Linked DNA regions of Homo sapiens: regions 1, 2, 4, 5 and 6 are each reported to be linked to region 3. The links are microRNA targets in miRTarBase. Many come from high-throughput screens and were not tested one by one. Region 3 holds a microRNA gene; each other region holds the end of a gene's coding sequence.
Evidence for each region. Region 3 holds the annotated microRNA hsa-miR-9500 (AAGGGAAGAUGGUGACCAC, at 1,927-1,945, opposite strand). A microRNA usually pairs through its seed, bases 2 to 8, with sites in the 3' UTR of a target mRNA and lowers its output. Matches are read on the target gene's strand: a 7mer-m8 pairs with bases 2 to 8, a 7mer-A1 pairs with bases 2 to 7 and ends in A, and an 8mer does both.

Region 1 (4,087 bases), not on the chromosome of region 3:
AGCTTTGACACATTTTTATTAGGTGCATGAAAACTAAATGTCTTATTGCCAAGTATCATTTTTACATTTTCTCGTCAAATTTTTATAAAAGCTTAAGAGCAAAATGCAGTAGGATCTTAAAAAAATTCTACAAACATAGCTGGATAAATTCTGCTGCTGAGCCAGAACTGTTGGCTGGAAGGCAGCGCCACCATGCGATCGTTCCAAAGGCTGTCAGTTTTGTCTAAAGACACAAGCTGGGATCCTCTAAGAGTTGGGCAACTAATAGCAAAAGCCCACTTCCTGTCATAGGAAGGTTATTTTCAAACTCCAAACCCCAGCACCACTTCTGTCTCTGAGAGGGAGAGGGAGAGAAGGAGGAGCTGTTTACAAACAGGATGTCTGATTACGGAGTTACACCAGTGGCCAGATTGGATCAGATATTTAATGCTTGATTAGGGTGGCTAGTGGGCAGGTTAAGGCTGGCAGATTCTGAGTACTCTCCATTTAAGGACGCCTGCACCGGGATACAACTTGCCGACTTCAATACCCAGCTCTGTGGCTGGCTAGCCCTACGTCTTTAACAAGGGACAAGTTCGGCCAAGGCTCAGTTGGTGGATTGTATATTATGTCTATAGGACCCAATTATACCTAAAGTTTCTAAGCTATAAAGTCTTGTGACTGTGTGCATGGTGTAGACATGGGCTAAACTCAAGAAGAGGGGTGAGAAAGAGTCATCTTAATCTTTAATTTAAAGTTTATTAGAGTTGTGGTTTCCTTTTCATGTTTTTGCTTCATAAAGTGTACCACGAATCTAACAGCAATATTATATTAAATGTACATGTTTGCAGTAAATTACACCCTCATTTAAGAAATGTGGAAAAGTTGGGGGGAAAGAGGAAATCTTAAAACTGAGTTAAGTCAGCAGTTCAGCAAGTGCTTACGAAAGACAGTCAAAATATAGGCAAGTTACTTTAAATGGGTATTATTTGTCCTTACTTTCCCAATGTAGGCAAGTGCCTGTGATATAACAATTTAGGGAATAATGGGAGAATAAAAAGCATATTAGTTTCAATCAGATTTCCTGGCATATATCACAGACCCTAAGGAATTACAAAGACAAAAAAGCAAGCTCTTTGGTTTCTGCATGGTTCTTTGCAGACTACAAGGCTGCCCCTGCAAGCACTTGGATGAAAAGACCGGGATTCTACTGGAAGTTTGCACTTTCCCCACATCAGCCAAGATGGGTAAACTGCCTTAACACAAAAGTCACATGCCCCACAAAATATTTCCTTCTATCTCAAAACAGTATTAGCTTCTTTAATCTAAGAAGGTAATGAGAGGTTTTTAAACTGATTAAATCAGCTTAGTTCATACAAAGTCTATTATGATTAAATATTCAATTAAAACAATTTCCAAACCAAAATCTGACAAAATCCTCTCTGAAAGTAATTTAGATGATAGGTTTTTAACATTAGGCAAATTAAATCCTTCTCACAGTTGGTATTTTCTAAAGGGTCAGAAACAGTTGCAGAAGTTCACTGGGGCAAAAATCTACTTTGTGTGCTAGTCATGTTCCATGATCATAAACAGAAACTAGAAATATTAACGTGAGCCTAACATTCCTATTTATTTTTACTTCAAAGGCTACATACATGCAAAAGTTGAACATGTCATCACAAATGCTTTAAATAAAGTTCAAAAAATAAAAATACTTCAAAATCCATTTACTTATGGAAATATACATGACAATTAGAGTGAAGTCAATTATATCCTTTTTTCAATCAGAAAAATACTTATATTATAAAAAAGTTTTAATTCATGTCCAGAATAATTTTTTAAAATTCTTGAGTCATAATTTTAAAACAAGTTGAATGTTAGTACAATGTTTGGAGAAACAAGTCCTAGGCTTTTGCTAACTGGATCTGATATTCTTATACTTCATTTTGAAATCACTAAGGAAACTCAAGTTTAGGGAAAAAAAAAAAGCATTTTAAGAAACCTATGATGGTAAGTATTATGGCTGAGGTGGTTACTAACCAAGTGAAGGGCACAACTTCCATAAGCAGATAATGTTCAAAGTCCTTTAAAATGTTTGAATGGAGAATTTTATCTACAAACACATAGTGGAGGCTTAAAGTAGCCTCAAGTCTCTCTGCTGGTCAACACTGCAAGAGGAATTAAAAATCCCAGGTACAGTGAAGTTCTGAGTGCACTGCCCTTTTGAAAAATGTGTGAGCAGGCACTAGCTCCCGTGACTCCAAAGCCGACTGGGGGAAGTGTCTTCAGATGGCCCTGCCCTTTATCAGGCAAAAGCAGCCAAAGGCTTGGCAAAGTCAGGAGAGGGAAATCAGCGTATTCTGAGCTAGTCTCCATGGTCCAGAGGATGACCATTTCCTTCTAATAAAACCAATATTTCTTTGGTAGCATAATACAATATATATCAACAATCCCAATAATTCATATGAGCAGAATGCACTCAAAGTTCAACTTTGTAAATGTTCACATGCATCCTGGAAATGAGATTTAACTTCCTGCACCTACATGAAAAAGGGTGGGGACAGCTGCCCAGGCTGGAGGACTACTGATGATGAGAAATGACACACAATGTGAGCAGGGAAAGGGATCATTTAACAAAATGTGTTAGCGTTGACTGGGAAAGAAAGCCCTAAGTGGGTAAACACACCCGAACTTTGCAAGGAGCTTAATTCAAACAATTAAAATATCACCTTCTCTTTAAATCAGAAACATCAGGTTTCCTATTGGAAGAAATCCCTTGCTACCACTCTAAGCCTTTGGTTGAAAAGGCCAAATTAAAATTCGGGTTAGAAATGTTTCCACAGAGGGTCCAAAGACTTAGAGCTTGATTTATATCCTGATACTGAATTGTGATTATAGTTTTCATGTTATGCAATCCAACTATTATTTTCCTTTTATCACTAAAAAAAAATGTTTTAAAAAGGAAAATTAAAGATTTGTGTGCTGTCAGTGCAAAATCACATTAAGTATGGTTTTTCTTTTCCCTGGGACAGAAAAAAACAATGCCCAGCTCACAGTACATAGGAATGTGTCACAACAAATAATCAGAAGACAGATTTCTCCAAGCTAGTGTTCCTCCTTGTACAGTGTGGTATTCAAAAGCAGTATTGTCACGATTATGCATATTCTCATTAACTAGGTACAGCAGAGCTACTTAAAGGGAAACCCATTTCTTGTGCCTCAATGAAAGGGGAGTGTAGAAAACAATAATTAGGCTGAATAAGGAATTTTAAACGGCAAAAAAAAAAAAAAATCAGAGTGAAAAGAACAGAGAATTTAGAAAGCCAAAAAAAAAGTTTTTTGTGTGTGTTTTTTTTAAAAAGCAAGTAATGTGACGGTAGAAACCCACACAATCTCCCCCCACCCCACCTGCCACTTTGAGTCCTAATTGCCCATCTGCAAGGACAGAAACCCACTCTAAATTGACCAGCATCGGCTTCGGCAAGTCTTCTCTTCACTCTCCCTCCTGTTAAGACCGTTTCCAAAACCAATCAGCAAAGGACAAAGAATTCTTTACAGAGTGCAATTAGTGTTTTCCACGTCCACCTTCAAAAGCATGATGCTCTTCATGGGCTAAAGGACAGAAAAAAAACAAAAAAGAAAAAAAGGAAAGAAAACTTTAAGCAAAGGATGGGCCAACCCTCCTCTAGGCATCTCATTCAGCTTCCCCAAATGTTGGCAAGAACTCAAACACCTTATTTATTTATTTATTTTTTTGCCAGTAACTGTTAGCTAAGGCGTGCATTTCCTGAGAAACGTAATAATGAAAATTAAAACAAGGAATAAACAAGCAATGGGCATGCTGCCTGTTTCTTCTTGCTGTGCCTGGGAGGATGAGTCATCTCAGCAAGCCGATGAAGAGAGTATGTTGGGCTGCAAGCAAATGCCGCAGGGGAAAATGTGCCCCACAAAATGCATTGCAGGGGGTGGGGAGAGGGGGTGCCTGACACAACCCAAGACAGAGCCGCTTACAAGCCTATCTTTAAAAATAAACTAAAAATAAAACAAAACAAAGAACCACACCAGGGTGACAGCAATTATATCTAGGTGCCCCTGCTCCCTACCTCTC
Region 2 (4,087 bases), not on the chromosome of region 3:
CCCCTGACAGCCCTTTTCCCAGACCTACCCAGACACGGGCTCCCCAGCCTGGACACAGGCTGCTCCCACAGGCCTCCTGCACTGCCTCAGGAGGGGAGCCCAGGTGAGGGATTCTTTGGTGGGCAGAGAGAGACTCTTCCTGCCGCGGGGAAAAGCAAGGCCGGGACCCGTGACGAGGTTTCCCCACCAACCAGGCTTTCTTGCCTTCATGCCAGACCTCTGTGTTTTGCTACTGGAAGGCCATAAGCTCCAACAGAGGGTTAGCTGCACCTGCTGTGCCCTCCCAGGAAGGAGCAGACCCATTGTGCTACTTCCCAGAAACAGCTTCAGAGGAGATTCTCCAACAGAGGCAGGCAAGCCCAGGTGTGACCTTGTTCCGGCCCAAGGCAGGAGGCCTCCCCGCAGAGGTCCAGGGCGTGGCACCCACACATCCCTCGCTCCACCGGGCCTCCATCTCCCCTCCCTCCCTGTGGCCCCCCCTGCCCTCTTTTCCTGGTGTCTGCCCTGCTGGCCTGCCCCAGACCACAGCCCAGCTCCACCATGCTCATCATCATCACAAACCCAGACCTTGGATGGCAACATTTTGTGAATACTTCCCTCCCGCCTGGGAAAAACTCATCCTGAGCAGGACGTGGGACACAGATGCAGGCCAGCCTCCGGGTGGGCTCTCCCCAAGCTGAGCAGTTGGGGCTCTGGCCTGGCTGGGAGGCCAGAGACCCGAGTCTTAGACCCCGCTCTGCCTCACAAAGAACCACATGAACTGGGTCTTCAAGGCCAGTTCCCCTCCTGGATCATCAGAGTCCTGCTCTTTGGAAGGGCCCCTGTCCCTGCAGTCAGAGAGTCTGAGGTTTCCTAAATATCTTCACGCAGAAAGGATGGGGAAATGGCAAGCGCAGGCCCCTAACTCCTGCTGCTGGGAACCCTCCCTGGGGCCCAGCCCAGGCGTGCTCCTTCTTCCCACGGGTTCCTTTCTCAAAGCCCCCACCCTCTCCCTGAAGCCCCCCACGAAGCCCCAAGCTCCTGGCCTCCTACACTCAGCAGTGTGACTGATCCTCCACCCCAGCTGGCCAGCCAATTCACCAGGCCCGTCTGGGAGCCCTGACTTCCTCATCTACAAAACGGGAACAAGCGGGACGGACAGACAGTCCCTTCCACCGGGACAAGAGCCCTTGAGGAGGCTTCCCTGGGGCTGCCCTCCCTGGCATGGAGGAGGGGAAGGAACTGGGGACAAGGGAGGTGGCAGTGGAGAGAGGGAGGGAGGAAGGGAGGTGGCACATGGGCCCAATGCTCAGAAACACAGGAGGTGGGTGTGGGGCAGGGCTGTGTCTTGGTGGCACCTGTTTTGGGTCTGTTTTTGCAGAGCTGACCCCTCCCTGGGTTTCAAGAGCTGCTCGTCAGATCACAACAGACAGAATGTGGGAAAGCAGGGCATCAGAGAGGGGGCGGGGGAGTCTGGACAAACTGGCACATACACGACAGATGTTTGCTCAGAAAAATACAGTAAAATCGTCATGCAAATATAACAGGGAGTCTGCTTCCTCACACCCCTGGCTTCTCTGCCTGCTTGCTTTTCTCAGTTGTGCCAAGGGGGTGTGAGGAGGGGTTGGGGGGCAGGTTTTGGGGGCCGGGGGAGGAGGTCTGCTCCGCGTATCCATGCCGCCCCCTCCCCTCCTCGCCCCAGGAGAACAGTCTTTTCTTTGCAAATGTCACCCTCAAAGTGAGCCCTGGGCTTCGTTAACCCCAAAGTTGGTGTGAGAGAGGTACTCAGCTGAGCCCGAGCCTCCTAGCCCTCTGCTGTCCTCCCTCACCCCCTGCCCCCAGCAGGAAGGTCGTTGGGGTCCCCAGGGGATGGCACTAGCTTTCCTGGTCAGAGCCCCTGCCCACCAACAGTGCCGGTCTTGGACCCATTCCAGTGCCTACCCTCGCCCCTCAGTCACACTCCCCAAATCTCAGGAAACCCATGTGGGCCACAGGCCCTAGACTGGGGGTCTCTGGCAGGGGCGTGGGGAGAGCCGGGGCCCCCCAAGCTGAGGTGGGTGGCAGCCAAGCGACATGTTGCTAGGCGGGCAAAGCTGCTAGTAGAGGCGTCCCCACACCCCGCTGGGCCAGCTCCCACCCAGAGGTGAAGGATGATGGACTCCGGCCCATCAGCATCCTGACTGGTCAAGACCCCAGTCTCAGGACCGCAGATTTGCCTCCCAAAAGAGCTGGCCCCAGGAGCTGCTGCCAGGCTGGCCCTCCCTCACCACCCTCTGCCACCGCCTACATGGACAGAGAACCCCAGAGCCCAACGGTCACTCTGGGCACCAACTGCCAGGCACAGGGTTACCATGGTGACAGAGGCTGGCTGGGAGGGGCTGGGGCGCCACGAACCCAGCCTGCTCCTCAACCCTCTCTCGGGTGGGGGCCTCACTGTTTGTGCTTTGTTTGATGTTGGGTGGGGGGGTCAGAAAGAGGGAAGTGGCCATTGCCACGGAAACATGGGAGCCCCTCTGGCCAGGGGGCCAGGCCTGGATGAGCAGCCCAGAGGGGATGGGTGAGAAAGCCCTCCTTCCCCGGGTGGGCGGCTGAGATAGGAGCCGAGATCCCACGATGGGGTCGGGCAGGTGGGGACACAGGCCATGGGGACAGGCAGGAAGTCCCCCATGACAGCTCCTCCCTGCAGCCCTCCAGGCATCACAGTGCACCGCTGCCCTTCTGCGGTGGGCAGGGGTCTCGGAGGACCAGAGAAGCTGGGGCCGGGAGCCTGCACCTGAGACGTCCTGGGAGCTGGCCTGCCCGCCACACGCCCCACTCTTCCCAGGCCACGTGGAAGACACTTGAAGTGGGCTGGTGGAATGTCGCCCTGCCTCGGCTCCTTTCCCGTCAACAGGACCCTCTCCCTTCTCCCGGGTGCCGGCATAGGGGTCAAAAGCCCCCCAGGATTCTGAATCACAGCTGCACACTCTGGGGGCACTGCCATGTGGCTTTCTAGGAAGAAAAAGCACCTGCCTGATTCCCAAGTCCCTCAGCCCCAAGGGACCACAGCTTCGGAAAGGGATGTGGGGTGGGCACAGGGCGGGCAGGGGTCCACAAGAGAGCTGCAGGGGGTTCCGGGACAGCACTGGGCTGGGAAGTTGGGGGACTTGAGGCTAAGCTGCTGTGTGACCCTGGGGTTGTCAACTCCCTTCTCTGGGCCTCAGTTTCCCCCCCTCTCTAAAGTGGAAGGAGACATTGCCCGATGTCTAATGCTAAATCTGCAGGTGACTTGACTCCCAGCTTGGGAAGGGACCCTCTCCCTGCCCTAGAGGGGCTTCAGTCCCTCTCTACTCCAGCTTTCTTGACCCCCACACCTGTTTCTAGCCCCAGACCCCCCAGACCCCACACCCTCTCTTGGCTTCCTTCCTCCCCCCGCCAGCCCCCCGGCCCTGCACACCCCAGCAGAGTCCCTGGGCAGCACAGTAAAGACGACTGGTTTCGGTATCAGTTTGTAAACTTTAAGGAAAATGTGTCTCTGTTTTCCTGTCCGTTATTGTCGGATGTTGGTTTGTTCACAGTCGGGTGGTGGTCAGGTGTGTGTGTGCGTGCGTGCGTGCGGGTCTGCATGTGCGTCCTCTCCTGGGCCTTGGCCCCCGAGTCTGCTCCCCGCCCTGGCCGCCTGGACCCTTCCCCCAAAAGGCCCCCAGCCCTCTGGCTCCGACCTCACCAGGGAGGAAGGGGGGGGTCACAGCTTCTGCTGGGCGGAGACCCCCTTCCAGTAATCAAGGATGTCATGCAGATCCTCGTCCTTGGCGAACTGGACCTTCTTGCGCAGGGCGTGACCGGCGGCCATGTACACCTCCTCCCGGTGGTGCTTCTTGTAGGGCCGGAAGCGCTCCCAGATCTTGTGCGTGCTCTCGGATGAGTACTCGGGGCTGGAGGAGTACCCTGAGTAGTAGTGTCTGGGGGAGAGCTGCGAGTAGGTGGAGTCACGCTTGGAGCGGGTCAGCGGCTTGAGGAAGGACACGCGCTGGCTCAGGCTGTCGGCACCCTCCTCGTAGTACAGGGCGGGAAAGCTGTGCCGGTGCTCGCTGCAGTGGTAGGCCGGCTTCACCTCCAGGTGGTGGAT
Region 3 (4,087 bases):
GTTTACATTCGTGTCTTTTGTTCCTTAAATCTCTTTAAATCTATAACAGCTCCATTCCCCCTAAATTGTTATGACGTGGGTGAGTTGAAAAGCCTGGGTCAGTTGTCCTATAGGATACCCCACATCCAGATTTGTCTGTTTGCTTTCTAGAGCTGGCCTTTACTTTGTTCTCTATTCCTGGGTTTCCTGTAAACTGAAATTATATCTAAAGGCTTGAAGAGATTTGGGCAATAAATTCGAGGCTAGACTATTTTGTAGGTGGTGCCATGTTACTCACACTGCATTTCCTCAGGATGCTCAATGTCAGGCTGTCTCACTCTGGGATGCTAAGTTTGATCCTTGGGTTCTGGTAGTGGCACCCTGATGCAAATAGCCCTAGGCCCTCTACACAGCACCCCGGTTCTGACCGGAGCCTCTTCCCTGTCTTTCTCCCCCCACCCCCCACAACCACCCTCTGCAGGTCAGGTCGTGGGCCTCTATTCCCGCTTTGATGTGATTGTAAGTGTCGCTGGAAAGGTGGGATGCTGCAGGGAGGCTAAGGGTGTGGGGATGGGTGGGGGGCCTCTGTGGACCAGGGGGACCTTGACAAGTATGCAGGGGTTGACATCTGTAGGGTAGGAGCCCAGGCAAGGGGGTGACTAGGAGCCATACTTCTCTCTCTGCCCCAGCACCTGGCTGCCCAGCAAACCTACAACCACCTGGACATGAGTGTGGGAGAAGCCCTGAGGCAGAGGACACTATGTCTGGAGGGAGTCCTTTCCTGCCAGCCCCACGAGAGCTTGGGGGAAGTGATCGACAGGATTGCTCGGGAGCAGGTACCGTGTGCCCTCCATTCATGCCCCCAACACATATAGCCCAGTCCTTCTCATGCACGGCTCCAGCCATCCCTGAACATCGGGCACCTGGCCTATCCTTCCATTTCATGACCAACTCCTGGTGCCCACACTGGCCTGCACCTGGTCCTGTCCATGGGGCCCTTATGCCAGGGGTCACTGCCAACTGATCACCTTAGGCCGGTCACACCATCCCTAACTGGTTTCTAGGAGACGCTCTCTCCCTCAGTCATGTTGGGTTGTTTCCCCTGATTCTTGGCACCAACCTCAGTAGCTGCTGTAGCCCCATGGCTCTGCCCCCTCACTGAACATTGCGGACCCACAGGTACACAGGCTGGTGCTAGTGGACGAGACCCAGCATCTCTTGGGCGTGGTCTCCCTCTCCGACATCCTTCAGGCACTGGTGCTCAGCCCTGCTGGCATCGATGCCCTCGGGGCCTGAGAAGATCTGAGTCCTCAATCCCAAGCCACCTGCACACCTGGAAGCCAATGAAGGGAACTGGAGAACTCAGCCTTCATCTTCCCCCACCCCCATTTGCTGGTTCAGCTATGATTCAGGTAGGCTCTGCCCTGGGCCATGACACCAGCCTCTTAGTCTTCCTGATTTCCTGGATCTCAGATTGGGACACCCTGAGGATGGGAGTGGCCAAGCTCAAAGCTGAGCAGCCCTGTGAAAACTGCAAGTGTAAGGACTCACAGGTCCCCACTTTGTCCCATTTTCAGCTGAGGTCATGGAGACTGTCCTAGAAGGGAGGGACAAAGCCCCGGCTAAAAGCTAAGGCTGCGATGTGACTTCAGACACTCTGGGAAGATTTACTTGTTCCCTCACAATTCAATTTCCACCTGCTGGAAATCCCCTTAGAAGGAAGCAAGCTATATCAACATTTGTTGGATGGAATTTCCATCCCCAGTAAGAACTAAAGCTTAAAGGAAGGAGCTTCTACCTACGTGCTCATCTCAGGAAATGTGACATGATCTCAGACTCTTTCCTGGTCACACGTTTGCTAGGGGCTTGCAGAGGATGGGCACAGATTCCATCTACTCACCATGGCTGGCAAGGGTCCCCTGTTGGAAAGGCCGCTGTCCCTCCTATGTGGTCACCATCTTCCCTTTTCTTTTCCCCACAGGCTTCTTCAGCCCTCCCAAATTGCCCTTGCCCTACCTGTGCTCCCAGAAGCCCTCGGGCATGCCCAGTGCACCATGGGATGATGAAATTAAGGAGAACAGCTGAGTCAAGCTTGGAGGTCCCTGAACCAGAGGCACTAGGATTACCCCAGGGCCATCTGTGCTCCATGCCCGCCCATCCCCTTGCCGCCTGACTGGGTCGGATGGCCCCAGTGGGTTTAGTCAGGGCTTCTGGATTCCTCGGTTTCTGGGCTACCTATGGCTTCAGCCTTCAGCTCCTGGGAGTCCCAGCTGTTGTTCCCAGCAACGTCGCCACTGCCCTCCTACTCTCCAGGCTTTGTCATTTCAAGGCTGCTGAAATGCTGCATTTCAGGGGCCACCATGGAGCAGCCGTTATTTATAGAACTGCCTGTTGGAGGTGGGGAGTCCTCCCTCCATTCTTGTCCAGAAAACTCCTTAGCTCTCGCAGTGAGCCATGTTCTTAGTCTCCAGGGATGGATGGCCTTGTATATGGACCCCTGAGAATGAGCAATTGAGAAAACAAAACAAAAGGAACAATCCATGAACTTAGATTTTATTGGTTTCACTCAAAATGCTGCAGTCATTTGACCTGAACTTGTGGCAAGAGACTTGTGCTTTCTAAATTCAAAGACTAGAAGGAAAATGGATAAAAATCACAAGTGCCGTTTCTCTTGCAATGTAGCGCTATTCTACTGAAATTTCTTTCTTCTCTTTTCTTTACAAAATCATAAAGAAAAAATTAATTCATTACTTATATAGTAGGTACAACTCAGCCTACAAACTCTAATCTGCAAGAAGCATAACTTTATTTTTCTAACACAGAATGTAATTTCTATTAGGAACCCCGTTTCAGCAGGTGGTAGAAATTAATCTCAGTCAATTCAAAGTCTCCCCCTGACCTTTTCCTGGGGTTAAGCTCGGTCGGGTGGGGGTGTGGCTTTAAGTCATGTAAGACTCTGTTCCTCGGCTATCATCATCCGTCCATGCTCGCACCTGCCTGGACATCCCCTCCCCATCTGGTCATCAGTTGGTCATGCAAGGTCTGCCAGGGGCTCCTTCACTTCCACAAAGCCTATTTGGGGACCTGTGGCTTGGAGCATGTGGAAGATTCTAGCTCCTGGCCCTGCACACCCTCTGGCTTCAGGAAGCTCAGTAATTCTGTTCCAGGCCAACTGCTAAGATAGACAGCCCAGTCCCTTGTTCCGCTCTGTGGCTTGCTGTTTTCCCAGGCTCTACCCAGGAAGCGTGTGGGTTCTTCTACCCAGTGCTTGCCTACACTTATCACCTCCAAACCTATATGGAGTATTTGTCATACTTTCCCCCTCTTTAGCCGCAACCTCCTTCTCAGGGTCCTTTTCTCAAGAATTCCAGAAATGTCAACATTCGCCTTGCTCCCCAAGCCCTGCCAACCTATGGAATCTTGACCAGTGGGGGAGAGAGGAGGCTTTTATTCTTTAACCCATCATATATTCTTCCAAATGCACTGTAAGTGTCCTGAGTTCTTGCCACCCACCTTCAGAATCAAGCTTTTAAAATTCCAAAGCCAAGGCTCGCTTCTGCTATGTCACCTTCCCTGTGGCAACGGGCACCACATGTCTGGCTGTCCAGAGAAGGGGGAGATTACTGTCTCTAAAACATGACCCCTTCCCCTTACCTCACAGAGCGAGAAGGCAGAGGCTTTGTACTGAATTGGTTGGACCATAAATGAAGATGTTCCCTCACTAGACATTTTGCCAAAACCTGAGGGTCAGTGCTGGCTCTGCTGTGGTCCCGCCCAGGGAAGGTCCAGGGTCTTGGGCTCAAGGGAGAGGATTGGAGTTGGGTGATGGTTGGGTCTGGGCCCAGAGAGGATCTCTCCAGTGACAGTGTTCCTGGGGAGCCTAGGGCTCTGGGATCTTGTAACAGGTCAGTCCTTTGAGGCTGTGCCTCTGGGTGGCTCTGCTCTGTGGGACCTTCTCTGTAAGGGCACATGCCACCCTCCCTGCCTCAGACCCCTCCTTTGGTCACAGCCCGGCCCTTGCAGCCATGATGGCTGCTAGAAAAGAGTCACGGAGTTTCCACCGGGGCTGCGGCGGCTGCTTCTTCCACTCCAGCTCTGAATCGAAGAC
Region 4 (4,087 bases), not on the chromosome of region 3:
ATTAATTTCAATGATAATCCCTAGATGTTGCTTCTCCATAGATGCCAAGTCCTTTCTTCTATTAGGTCTAAAGAGTCTAGAAAGATGCAAGTATGAGTTCCTTACAATTCCATTTTTATTCTCAGGAGGAACAATCCAACACCAATCTAGCTAAATTCCGCAAGCTCCAGCATGAGCTGGAGGAGGCCGAGGAACGGGCTGACATTGCTGAGTCCCAGGTGAACAAACTGCGGGTGAAGAGCCGGGAGGTTCACACAAAAGTCATAAGTGAAGAGTGATCATGTCCTGATGCCATGGAATGACTGAAGACAGGCACAAAATGTGACATCTTTGGTCATTTCCCTCTGTAATTATTGTGTATTCTACCCTGTTGCAAAGGAAATAAAGCATAGGGTAGTTTGCAAACAATATCCTTAGACTGGTCTTGTCTTTTCTCTTTCCTGAAGCCATGTCAAAGTTTGAATAGTCACCAGAGTTGTCAAACAATCACATTCAATTGGTGACTTTTTTGGGGGTCTACGGCAACACTTTAAGGCTGTAAAGATGTCACTTATCCAGAAAGACTGTTCTAATGAACAGAAATTTGGAAGTCTATTTTATTTCTTTCTAACCTTTCCTGATATCTGAGTACAGTAAAATCTTAGAAAGCTCCTGCTTCCCCTAACATGAACCTTTTTCAGGATAGTACTAGCTATATTCTCACATAGGGGATTCAAACTGAATTGTATCATTAATTCTCTTTGTTGAATAACTGTTATCAAGAATATAAATACAAAATATTCTTAATTAGCCCATGGATATTTACATTATCAATTCCAATGTACCATATGCCCACAGTAGGTGCACTGGGTAATGGGTTTGACACGACCTTGTTCTTCACGAAGCAAGTTTCAAAATTAAATTAAATATGACTCTTCTCCCTATGAAAACTACAGGGTGTCTATCAAATCTGGAGACATAGAGAATATTATTTTTACGTTATAATGTAGTATCCATGAGCTATTAGCTTATGTTTCCAATCTTTATGGTCTCCCAGATAATCATATAAAGAGCCAAAATAAATGACTAAAAGTGTCAAGAAAATATGATCTCAAAGTAGGTTATTCAAATCTATATTCAACACACATAATGATGGGTATGAGTTTGGTACAAAAAGTAGATATCATAGCAATCTGGACCACTCAGAGACGTTTTCCTAGAGGATCAAGATTTTTAAACTGGATGCAGCTGAGATGCATAGCCAAAAATATAACCTTCCTCGACAGAATAAAGGAAGAGCTAAATGGTAACTTCCCATCAAATAGAAAGCAAGAGTATCTTGGTCTAAATGGCACTGTGTGAAAATGATGTAAATTAGACATGGTAGTTTAACAGGTAAGTTGGATTCACACTGTCGCACTGGCCTTAGAAAGGGTGTGGAATTGCTCTTCTCGCTGCATAAGCCCCTCTTTCACTTTGTTCCTGTATCACGTGGAATTGCTTAAGTGCTTTATAACGTGGCAGTAATAAACAAAAACAATATCTTACTTCCTACTTATTGAAAAGTTTATCCAGAGCAAGACAAAAGGTTGTCTGAAGATTCCCATCAGATCCTATTGAGAGCATTATTAAAATGTTTTATCTTCCTGAAAATCATTACCCACATTTTGCAGGTGCCTAGTAAAGAAACAGACATGTAAGAAAGTAAAATTAGGTACCTGTGGTAACAAAGCAGGCTAATAGATGGCTAGGAAAGGCCCTCTCAGACGCACATCCCTGCAATACCCTTCCTGATGGCTTTAATCTACCCCAGGTAGAAGAGTGTCACAAGTGAGTACGCTGGACCGCAAGTCAGATGACCAGAGTCTAAACTGCTGTGTGATTTGTGGAGATTCTCTTCTATTTTTTGGATCTCAGTTGCTTTATTAGTAAAATGAGAAAGATGAATTAGATGATCCCTTATGGTAATAAAACTATGTGACCTTTACAACTAGTATATCCAGATATCTCCTTTCATAAGGCAAGCTATAGCCATTAAATCAATTGAGATATAAGTACAATAATACAGATGTGGGTGCAAAACCAGGTATATTAAGCAAATGTTGTCCCAGTCCTAGCCAGACAATGCTGACAGACAGAGACGTGAGGCCACAAAGACAGTAAAATAAACTTTTTTAAAAAATTAAAATAGAAAACAATATTCAGGTATTGTTTGTAAGCAAAATACTAAATATATCCCATGGACTGCTGATAGAGGAAAAATCATCGATGCTGCATATTTAGACAGAGAAATACCCTGTTTCCAATATTTTCTTATGTTGAGTTTCATAGAGGAAACAAGATTTCACAAGCAACTTGGGCACCAAAAAAAAATGAGAGAAGCAGGACATCTCTGTTTGGAAGGCAATGCAATTTCGGAGCAAGTCCGAAGTGCCGGTGGAATGATTTGACAATGAATAAGAGGCGACTGATTGAAGGAAACAAAAGAAGCTATCTTTGGCTGCTCTTCATGAAGCAAGTTTCAAAATTAAATTTCCAAGCAACTTTGAAAAAGCACAATAAATTGCAAAAAAAAAAAAAAAAAAAAAAAGGAAATCTTTTTGAGAGAAAGCAACGTTTTTATAACCCTCTGCTAAAGAGCAGAAGTTTTCCTCCCGAGTACACTATCTGTAACTGCGCAGGCAGTTGAAAAGACTTCACACAGGCGACTCTGTGAAACAGAAGAGCAGTAGGCAACAAAGTCCAGGGATTCCAGAACTTAGCTGTCTTTGAAACAACACCTTACATTCCAAAGGCCAACAACTTTAAGATTGCCAACGACTCAAATTATTTATAGGAGATTGATTCATATACTTAACCCAATATGAGAGGAAATATTTCTAATTATATCCAAACATCTTTAATATGAGGGGAATTAGGCTTGGAGACCTTCAATGCCAAAAACATGTTTTGCCAAATATGTTTTAAGAAAGAGGAGGAGGTTACGTGTTTTCCATATTTGAGCCTATAAAAGTACCCTTGGAATGAGTATGACTTGTCTCTCCTCATAAAGCTTCAAGGTAAGTGTGTGTGAGGACAGGGCTCTGTCTGGAGGACGGTAAGGGATGTCTGGCTGCCCGCGTGCATGCCACACATCCTGGCTCCCACTGTCCCTGGCAGCCCTGCCAGTGAAGCACCAGCTTACTCCGTAGCAATTTTAATTAGATGTTGTAGTCTTCCCAGTCATTTCCTGGTTCTCAGTTAAGAATTGTTCTATAATCGGGAATTGTTATAATTTAATCAGAAGAGGTTTGCTCTTTTTCTTACAGTTCTGATCCACTTTAAGGTCGCATCTCTACGGTAAGATTCTGATTTTTTTTTTTCTCATTCCTCACAGAGTGCAAGGAATCTTCTGCAGTGGTTTGGACAGTGGTGAGGGGCGGGGTGAGGGAAGTGATAAAAAAAATCATTTCCATTTCATGGTTGATCACGCTTCTCTTAAAAAATGGAGAATGACTTTAGAAACTGGTTCTCCTTAACTCATATCCCTCGCAATATATGAAAATGCTTTCTCAGAGTCCTTGGGAATTTTATTCACAATAGTGAATTTCATTCACTATTTCCAGCATTGTAGTTTATCTTTTAAATGACTGCATTACAATATGCAATGTAACATTTCAAAGTGTTACTCAATTATAGAGAAAATTTAAATTTTCTATACCATGGCTTTTCCTCAGCACTATAAATATAAAAACCTATGAGAGATGATGTCTAATTGGATAAATAGAATGGTCTGAATCTTTGCCTTGGAAAAAGTTGCTTAACTGCATGTTGTTTCACAATCTATAAAATAAAAATTAACGAATATATACACACACACACACACATATGTATATATACACACACACAATACGAAACATGATTGTCAGCATATTCAGCAAGATGAAGCATTTTAATTATGTTATCTGAGTCAACATAGTTTCAATGGGAGAAATGTATCCAAATGAGCTTCCCTGGAAAAGGTATCTTTATTATTATAAAGTAGAATATACATGAAGATTATTGACAGCATTAATGAATGCTAGCTAATGTGGCAAGAGGGGGATCCTGAAAAGAACAAGTTTTGTGA
Region 5 (4,085 bases), not on the chromosome of region 3:
TTTTATACCTGTGCCTTGAGTAATAAGTAGACTCTAGAGGGAGTAACATGGAAGATATTCAGATGATTGGAACATTACAGAAAACATGGGTCTTGAATGGGAAACTTTGAACAAAGACTTAGAATTTTGCAATGCGTACCTACAATCTTCTCAATAATTCTGTTTTCTATACTTCTCTTTCTAGTGGCAAAGCATCTAAACAAAACCAAGTTGTCTTGGAACAAAGATGGCATTCTCCATGGAGTCAGATATCAGGATGGGAATCTGGTGATCCAATTCCCTGGTTTGTACTTCATCATTTGCCAACTGCAGTTTCTTGTACAATGCCCAAATAATTCTGTCGATCTGAAGTTGGAGCTTCTCATCAACAAGCATATCAAAAAACAGGCCCTGGTGACAGTGTGTGAGTCTGGAATGCAAACGAAACACGTATACCAGAATCTCTCTCAATTCTTGCTGGATTACCTGCAGGTCAACACCACCATATCAGTCAATGTGGATACATTCCAGTACATAGATACAAGCACCTTTCCTCTTGAGAATGTGTTGTCCATCTTCTTATACAGTAATTCAGACTGAACAGTTTCTCTTGGCCTTCAGGAAGAAAGCGCCTCTCTACCATACAGTATTTCATCCCTCCAAACACTTGGGCAAAAAGAAAACTTTAGACCAAGACAAACTACACAGGGTATTAAATAGTATACTTCTCCTTCTGTCTCTTGGAAAGATACAGCTCCAGGGTTAAAAAGAGAGTTTTTAGTGAAGTATCTTTCAGATAGCAGGCAGGGAAGCAATGTAGTGTGGTGGGCAGAGCCCCACACAGAATCAGAAGGGATGAATGGATGTCCCAGCCCAACCTCTAATTCACTGTATGGTCTTGATCTATTTCTTCTGTTTTGAGAGCCTCCAGTTAAAATGGGGCTCCAGTACCAGAGCAGCTAGCAACTCTGCCCTAATGGGAAATGAAGGGGAGCTGGGTGTGAGTGTTTACACTGTGCCCTTCACGGGATACTTCTTTTATCTGCAGATGGCCTAATACTTAGTTGTCCAAGTCGCGATCAAGGACTCTCTCACACAGGAAACTTCCCTATACTGGCAGATACACTTGTGACTGAACCATGCCCAGTTTATGCCTGTCTGACTGTCACTCTGGCACTAGGAGGCTGATCTTGTACTCCATATGACCCCACCCCTAGGAACCCCCAGGGAAAACCAGGCTGGGACAGCCCCCTGTTCCTGAGATGGAAAGCACAAATTTAATACACCACCACAATGGAAAACAAGTTCAAAGACTTTTACTTACAGATCCTGGACAGAAAGGGCATAATGAGTCTGAAGGGCAGTCCTCCTTCTCTAGGTTACATGAGGCAGGAATAAGAAGTCAGACAGAGACAGCAAGACAGTTAACAATGTAGGTAAAGAAATAGGGTGTGGTCACTCTCAATTCACTGGCAAATGCCTGAATGGTCTGTCTGAAGGAAGCAACAGAGAAGTGGGGAATCCAGTCTGCTAGGCAGGAAAGATGCCTCTAAGTTCTTGTCTCTGGCCAGAGGTGTGGTATAGAACCAGAAACCCATATCAAGGGTGACTAAGCCCGGCTTCTGGTATGAGAAATTAAACTTGTATACAAAATGGTTGCCAAGGCAACATAAAATTATAAGAATTCACTATACCTTCCCCTCCCTGGAACTCAGGATCCAAGTCTAGAAAATGAAAGGACTGGGTTTGAATTGCTTCAAAACCTCTTCCATCTCAGAAGACCAGACCCTGGGAACTGAGATTCCAGACACAATTTTGGAAGCTCTCCAACCAAAATAAGGCCCCCCTACCCCAGTATATAATTGAAGACACTAGTAACACCTGACTGCATCTCATCTCAGCAGAGCCAGAATATGGGGACAAGGTTCAGGGTGCCCTGCTGAATGGTGTGAACAGCAGGATCTCAAGGATGTAATGGAAAGAACTACCACACTGACCATCCAGAATCTAAGAGACCATCTGGGTGTTTGGGAAACCATCTGACGAGGCCTGACTCTATTCCAGTTAGATTGACAATAATTGAGCAGCAGGCATTTTTCATTTCTGGTCAGGAAAGCATTGTGCCTTTAGCAAACAATCAGTGTGCAACAGTGATGTGGTCATCTAGCCAGGGAATGGCTGCTCCATCCCCTGCATAATATATTCCTGCTTCAAACACCTCTCAGAAAACCAGTTCCGCGAGGGTTTTTATATCCCCACAAAGTTGTTGAGAGACAATGATGACCCTGGAAGTGGGGAGGAGGACTTCTGAGAAACAGCAACCTCTCTCCTGATTGGGGTAGCCATGAGATTTCTCTAGCTATATCCAACTTGGCATCTGTACATCATCTTTGGAGGAACATCTTATTTGTGGAAGGACCTTGACAAGCCGTTTGAGATGGAATGTAGGCCCTGATGTTATGCTTCAGTAAAAAAAGATGGAAGCTTCCCTGCTATACCAAAACATGGAGCAAAATTTGCATTTTTCTCAAGAAGGAGAGAAAAGGAGTAGGACTCCAGCAAAGTTTGTCAGAAGGAAAGCTAGAAAAGATTTAAAAGAAAAAAAGAAAGAACAAATCAGCAGTGGTGGTATGGATGAAAGGGACTTGAGAGAACAAAAATGGCTAAGGGAAAATTTTAAGTCATCTGCTGAGCAGTGTGCTGTGTCAACCTCCTCCTAGGTCTCCTCTATGAAATATTTAGTAAAGTCTACATTTCTCTTTAACTCTTTCTGTGAGTAGATTCTTTGGGAGAAGCAGGCATTGGAAGAGGTGTTGAATTCAGCAAGCCAAATGGTCTGTGGTAAAAAACAAAACAGACTTTGAGACTCAAGGCTAAAAAAACAGGGAAATGGCTGGCATTTGAGTCACACACTAACTGCATAGGACAAATGAATCTTGCTTAAACCAACTCATGCATTCTTGAAAAGGTATATGCAACCCAACTGTGTGTTAACTAAGCAATTTTTTTGCCATCTCACATTCTAACTCGAGAAAGATTCCATTTTCATTTTTCACCAACTGTTCTCTGAGCAGAGGTACCTGACTTTTGCACTGTGAGTGGTTTCTAATCTCAGTCTCTGTCAAGCAATGCTAAGAAAGCCAACACCTAAAGACACAAGGGGTACATCATTTAAATGAATAATGTAACCAAACAAACAAAAAAAGAGAATAATCATTAATAACTCAACTGATAGATATGTAGGGAGTAGGCAACCCAGGAAGTTTAAAACTAAATTCTGTTACTCTTGAGGGTTAACCAGCCCCTGGGAATGTTATGAGCAAATGATACTCCATGAGTAAAATGATATCTATGCAAGTAAAATAAATAATTTATCTAACTGGGAACTCAGGCTACCTAAAACATATGCCTCTTTGGTAAAAACTCAACTTGAGCTCCTTCCCTTGCTCCTACCCTCTGAACCCCACCTCCCCACCACACACACACACACACACACTCAGTGTACTTGCAGAACTTGTAGAGGAAGATGGTAAGTGAGCTCACAAAAACATAACAAGTCAATGTAGAGTCATCCAAACTGGAGTGGAGTGGTGCTATCTTGGCTCACTGCAGCCTCCCCTTCCTGGGTTCAAGTGATCCTCCTACCTCAGCCTCCTGAGTAGCTGGGACTACAGGCACGCACCACCACACCCAGCTGATTTTTGCGTTTTTAGTAGAGACGGGATTTCACCATGTTGGCCAGGCTGATCTCGAACTCCTGACCTCAAGCAATCTGCCCACCATGGCCTCTCAAAGAGCTAGGATTACAGGCGTGAGCAACCACACCTGGCCTCTAACCCTTTTCTGAATCATATATTGACCATGTACTGAGTCTATAGAGGATAGAGACCACCTGTGTCTCACATTCAAATCACCATCCCAGAGTGACCGGGGCGAGAGCAGGGAAGAGCAGAGGAAACCTCCAAATGTGGGGACTGTCCAAAGTAAGGTTGGAAAGACGTGACCTGAGGAATTGCAGAAAGGCTATAGGAGGCCCTATCAAGGCTGGTGGGAAATAATGGAGATTGGAATATGAGACTGGGCTCAAATGCCAGCTCTCTCACTAA
Region 6 (4,087 bases), not on the chromosome of region 3:
CATGTTGCCTAGGCTGGAGTGCAGTGGCACGATCATAGCTCACTGCAACTTTGAACCCCTAGGCTCAAGCAATCCTCCTGCCTTGGCCTCCTGTGTAGCTGGGATTACAGGTGCACGCCACCATACCTGGCTAATTTTTTTTTTTTTTTTTTTTTTTTTGAGACGGAGTCTCGCTCTATTGCCTAGGCTGAGTGCAGTGGCGCAATCTCGGCTCACCGCAAGCTCCGCCTCCTGGGTTCACGCCATTCTCCTGCTTCAGCCTCCCGAGTAGCTGGGACTACAGGCGCCCGCCACCACGCCCGGCTAATTTCTGTATTTTTAGTTGAGACGGGGTTTCACCTTGTTAGCCAGGATGGTCTCGATCTCCTGACCTCGTAATCTGCCCACCTTGGCTTCCCAAAGTGCTGGGATTACACGCGTGAGCCACTGCGCCCGGCCAACCTGGCTAATTTTTTAATTTTTCTGTGAAGGGGTTTCACTATGTTGCCCAGGCTGGTCTTGAACTCCTGGGCTCAAGCTATCCTCCTGCCTCAGCCCCCGCCTCCCCAAAATGCTGGGATTACAGGGATGAGCCACTGTGCCCGGCCCTCCTTTTACTTTTTTAATATGGCTACTAAAAATGAAAAATTCCACACGTGGCCTGCATCATCTTCCTGGTGGACAGTGCTGCCTGAGAGTTCCCTTTTTGCGCTTCCTAGTGAGCTAGTGATCGACTTTACACCTAGTCCCCTTGTGATGGGAAACCCTCTGTTGAAACAGCAGGGTCCTCGCCTCACTGGACCGGGACTCAGACCAGGTGGAAATGATGATTTCATACTCATGGCCAAGCTGCCTCTCACCCCAGATGGAGGAAGTGAAAGTTCCAGCCTTTGCGGTTATTGTGGATTAAAAGCAAAAAGATTTTCGTGGAGGCGCCACCAAAGCCTGAAGTGTACCCGGTGGGCAGGACCCTCCACAGGCACCTCCACGCCCCACTCCTGCCCTGTGCCCGTAATCCCAGCACTTTGGGAGGCTGAGGCGGGCAGATCACTTGAGGTCAGGAGTTCGAGACCAGCCTCGCCAACATGGCGAAACCCCATGTCTACTAAAAAAATACAAAAATTAGCTGGGCGTGGTGGTGCACACCTGTAATCCCAGCTACTCAGGAGGCTGAGGCAGGAGAAGTGCTTGAACCCGGGAGGCAGAGGTTGCAGTGAGCTGAGAACCTGCCACTGGTCTCCAGCCTGGGCGACAGAGCAAGACTCTGTCTCAAAAAAACAAACAAACCAAAAAAACAGAAACAAAAACAAAAACAAAACCCCCAACAACTCCTGGGGACTGGACCTGAAGGGGTCTTCAGAGCGTTAAGCAGGACACGGAGGGCAGGTGAGCGAGCTGAGGGGCAGGAGCCATGGGGAGCCCCCAACAGAACCTGCTACTCCTGCAGCAACGTTTGGGCAGAAGAAAATCCTCAAATAAAACCTCCAAGAACGTGCACGCCAGTCACCGCTCATCTCGGACACGTTTATTGCTAGAATCAGGTCTTAAGTTCTAAAGCGGGTCAGAAATATCCCGCAGTGAGGAAATGTTGTAATCATTGTAAAAATAATTAGCAGGTGACTAAGATCATGACCACAACTGACAAAGACGTGTGCAGATCCCACGAAAATAGGAACATTTGCTCGACTGTCAACTTTACAAATAAAATCGGGCTCCAACCCAGGAGTGGCCGAGGGGCACTGGCGAGGGAAGGGCTGTCGGCGCTGCCGCCCGATGCCTAGCACGACTGAGACCCCTCTGCCACATGGCGGGGACGCGGGGTTCCCACCGCGTGGCCGAGCAGAAATTCCTTGAACTTCTCCCCCATCCAAGGAATTGTGGCATCTCGGAGGGCTGGACCGGCACACGCCGGCTCAGGAGGGTGCCAGGGTCTGGGAATGTTCTCTTCACAACAGAACAGGAATGTACAGTCAGCTTCTGTAAAGTGCTCCGATACTCAGTACAAAAATACAAAACACTGATGATAAACATGGCACACATGGGATCTGACGGGGGGCGGACAGCGTCGCTGATGGCCAGGGACCGGGCTGGGCAGAGTTGAGGTCGTCGGAGGGGCCAGGAGCCTGGGGACACCTGGCCACTGTGTTCTCAGGACCTTGTCACCAATGGGCTGTATGGCTGTGGGGCTCTGGTTCCCGGTTGGCACCAGCTCCTGCCCCGCCCCCTCCTGAGCCCACAGCACCCAGTGGGCGCCTCTGCCCAGGGGAGCACTTCCTGATGGAGTTTCCCCTCCCTTGTGCCCATCTGTCCCCGAGTGGCGGGAATGTCCCTGTTCACTGTATTCAGCGTCACAGGAGTGCCTCTGCCAGCACAGTGGGAGAAGGGCTGAATCCCCCCGGGATCTGCAGTTCCCAGGACCCTGGGTTCGGGAGAAGGACTTGGCCCTGGCAGGGGCTCACATGTACCCCACTGGGAACAAGGACGATCAGCCAGGACCCAGTCCTACCACCAATGCTTGGGGTGCAGAACAAGGCTTGACATGGGCCCTTTCTCCACCGGAGCTGGATCGTGGATGGATCTCACCACCCTGGGATGTCCCAGCACCTTTGATGCTGCCCAACACCTCCTTCCTCCACCCCTCCAGGGAACGGACCGTAAGCTGCAACAGCTCACTACAAGCGAGGGGCCCGCACAGCGGCCACTTGTCCACTTGCTGCAACGTCTCTAGGTGCATCCTCTGCATGCCCTGGGACATGGCGCTCTCGACAGTCTGTGATGTGCCAGCCCCCACCTGGAAGGTGGGACGCCAGCCCTGGGAGCTCATTTCCCGGGGGCTGAGGACCCTGTGCCCAGGGTGTGTACCCGCCCTGGCTGAAGCTAGAGGCCCGCTCCCCCAGACAGGCTGAGCGTGTGAACAGCAACGGTTGCCCTTGGGAAGCAGAGTTTGGGAAACAGCTGGTTTCAAAACCAATGCCAAGTAAAAAGGGGCAAAGGTCAGCCCCTTTCACGATGGGCTTCCAAACCCACAGAACCTGACTGGAGGGCCACTGATGTTCCCTCAGTGGGCCCTGCCCCGTGGCCCTCTCTGCCCATGCCCCCGTGCCTGGCTCATTCCCTGACCCTGAGGTTCATGGTGAACCTGCGTGGGGCTCTGTTTGGGAAGTGGATTCTGCCTGATTCTGGGGACAGATGCTGCCGACGCCACCTGGCCCCTCCTGGTGCCCTAACCCTTGGCTCCACTGTCGCGCGGCGGCTGTGGAGCGTGGCCCCGGCCGGCAGCTCCTTCTCAAAGCAAGGTCTGTCCTGTCCTCAGCTCCGTGCAGAGCCGGCACCGTTCCTCACTGCCTCGGAAAAACAGCTCGGAGTTGATCTCCCCGCCACCCGGATGGGGTGCTATGATTTCAGACAGCTCCCTGGTTTAGTTCTGGCTCAACTTTCCATTAAAAACTTTCCTTTTTGAAAAAAAAAAAAAGAGATTCAGAAAGTGACCCCGGCACCACCGCTAACCCTACAGAAACAGCTGCAAGGCCCAGAGCACCGACAGGCTGGCCCCTGCCAGGCGGTCATCAGTGGTTTGCTAGGGAAGAGGAGGGGACAGCTGGGTGGGCATGGTGACCCCATGGGGGTCCCCAGAGAGCAGGAAGGGTGGGCAGGGCAGGGAGGGGCCTTGCACCTTGAGTCACGGCCCTTTTAGAAGAAGATGACGTCTTCTTTGCTGGCGTCCTCCTTGGCGCTGAGTGGTGTGGCCGGCAGTGGCGAGGGAGCTGGGGGCCCGGGCAGGAGGGCTGTGCCCCCGGCCTTGAGAGAGAAGCCCTCGGAGGGGCTGTCAGCTGGCGGTGGGCTCGGGGCGGGGAAGCCAGGGTCTGGAACAGAGAGAGGGTTCAGACTGAGCAGTCGCCGGGTGGTGCCGCAGCCCCGCTGCCCTGGGACTGGGCTCATGTCAGGGGGTGGGGGCTCACCTGGTGGGGGCGCAGGACTGTGTCTGCCGGGCAGGATAGGGCTCAGCGAGCGGCGGTTCCGTGAGGTGCTCTCATCTTTCCCCATGAGCTTGTTGAGCAGCAGCTGCTGCTTCAGGTCGAAGGACGCTGGAAGAGAGAAGGTATTTGGG

Region 1: miRTarBase lists EIF4E3 as a target of hsa-miR-9500. Seed matches in the 3' UTR shown: 7mer-A1 at 1,952-1,958 and 7mer-A1 at 1,016-1,022.
Region 2: miRTarBase lists ELFN2 as a target of hsa-miR-9500. Seed matches in the 3' UTR shown: 7mer-m8 at 2,455-2,461.
Region 4: miRTarBase lists MYH2 as a target of hsa-miR-9500. The part of its 3' UTR that is shown has no 7-base or 8-base seed match.
Region 5: miRTarBase lists TNFSF8 as a target of hsa-miR-9500. Seed matches in the 3' UTR shown: 8mer at 1,083-1,090 and 7mer-m8 at 2,464-2,470.
Region 6: miRTarBase lists ARHGEF18 as a target of hsa-miR-9500. Seed matches in the 3' UTR shown: 8mer at 3,558-3,565 and 7mer-m8 at 1,725-1,731.

What each region holds. Positions count from the first base shown.
Region 1 is chr3:71,681,138-71,685,224 of GRCh38, forward strand. EIF4E3 (eukaryotic translation initiation factor 4E family member 3) reads right to left here. Exons shown (of 7, transcript NM_001134651.2): 7 at 1-3,591. The coding sequence ends at 3,545. Among named protein-coding and RNA genes, the nearest start is that of EIF4E3, 42 kb to the right of the region's middle.
Region 2 is chr22:37,369,369-37,373,455 of GRCh38, forward strand. It overlaps ELFN2 (extracellular leucine rich repeat and fibronectin type III domain containing 2), which reads right to left. Exons shown (of 3, transcript NM_052906.5): 3 at 1-4,087. The coding sequence ends at 3,704. Among named protein-coding and RNA genes, the nearest start is that of ELFN2, 56 kb to the right of the region's middle.
Region 3 is chr2:218,820,950-218,825,036 of GRCh38, reverse strand. MIR9500 (microRNA 9500) reads right to left here and starts at 1,947; the gene lies at 1,883-1,947. It overlaps PRKAG3 (protein kinase AMP-activated non-catalytic subunit gamma 3), which reads left to right. Exons shown (of 14, transcript NM_017431.4): 11 at 461-498; 12 at 669-815; 13 at 1,159-1,391; 14 at 1,961-2,729. The coding sequence ends at 1,275. RefSeq lists an enhancer at 976-2,175.
Region 4 is chr17:10,517,471-10,521,557 of GRCh38, reverse strand. MYH2 (myosin heavy chain 2) reads left to right here. Exons shown (of 40, transcript NM_017534.6): 40 at 126-410. The coding sequence ends at 278. It overlaps MYH1 (myosin heavy chain 1), which reads left to right and starts at 3,016. Exons shown (of 40, transcript NM_005963.4): 1 at 3,016-3,038; 2 at 3,288-3,318. All of the region lies in intron 2 of MYHAS (myosin heavy chain gene cluster antisense RNA), which reads right to left.
Region 5 is chr9:114,900,425-114,904,509 of GRCh38, reverse strand. TNFSF8 (TNF superfamily member 8) reads left to right here. Exons shown (of 4, transcript NM_001244.4): 4 at 185-3,365. The coding sequence ends at 579. Among named protein-coding and RNA genes, the nearest start is that of TNFSF8, 28 kb to the left of the region's middle.
Region 6 is chr19:7,469,881-7,473,967 of GRCh38, reverse strand. ARHGEF18 (Rho/Rac guanine nucleotide exchange factor 18) reads right to left here. Exons shown (of 29, transcript NM_001367823.1): 28 at 3,939-4,064; 29 at 1,490-3,842. The coding sequence ends at 3,670. Among named protein-coding and RNA genes, the nearest start is that of PEX11G, 17 kb to the left of the region's middle. RefSeq lists a silencer at 764-813.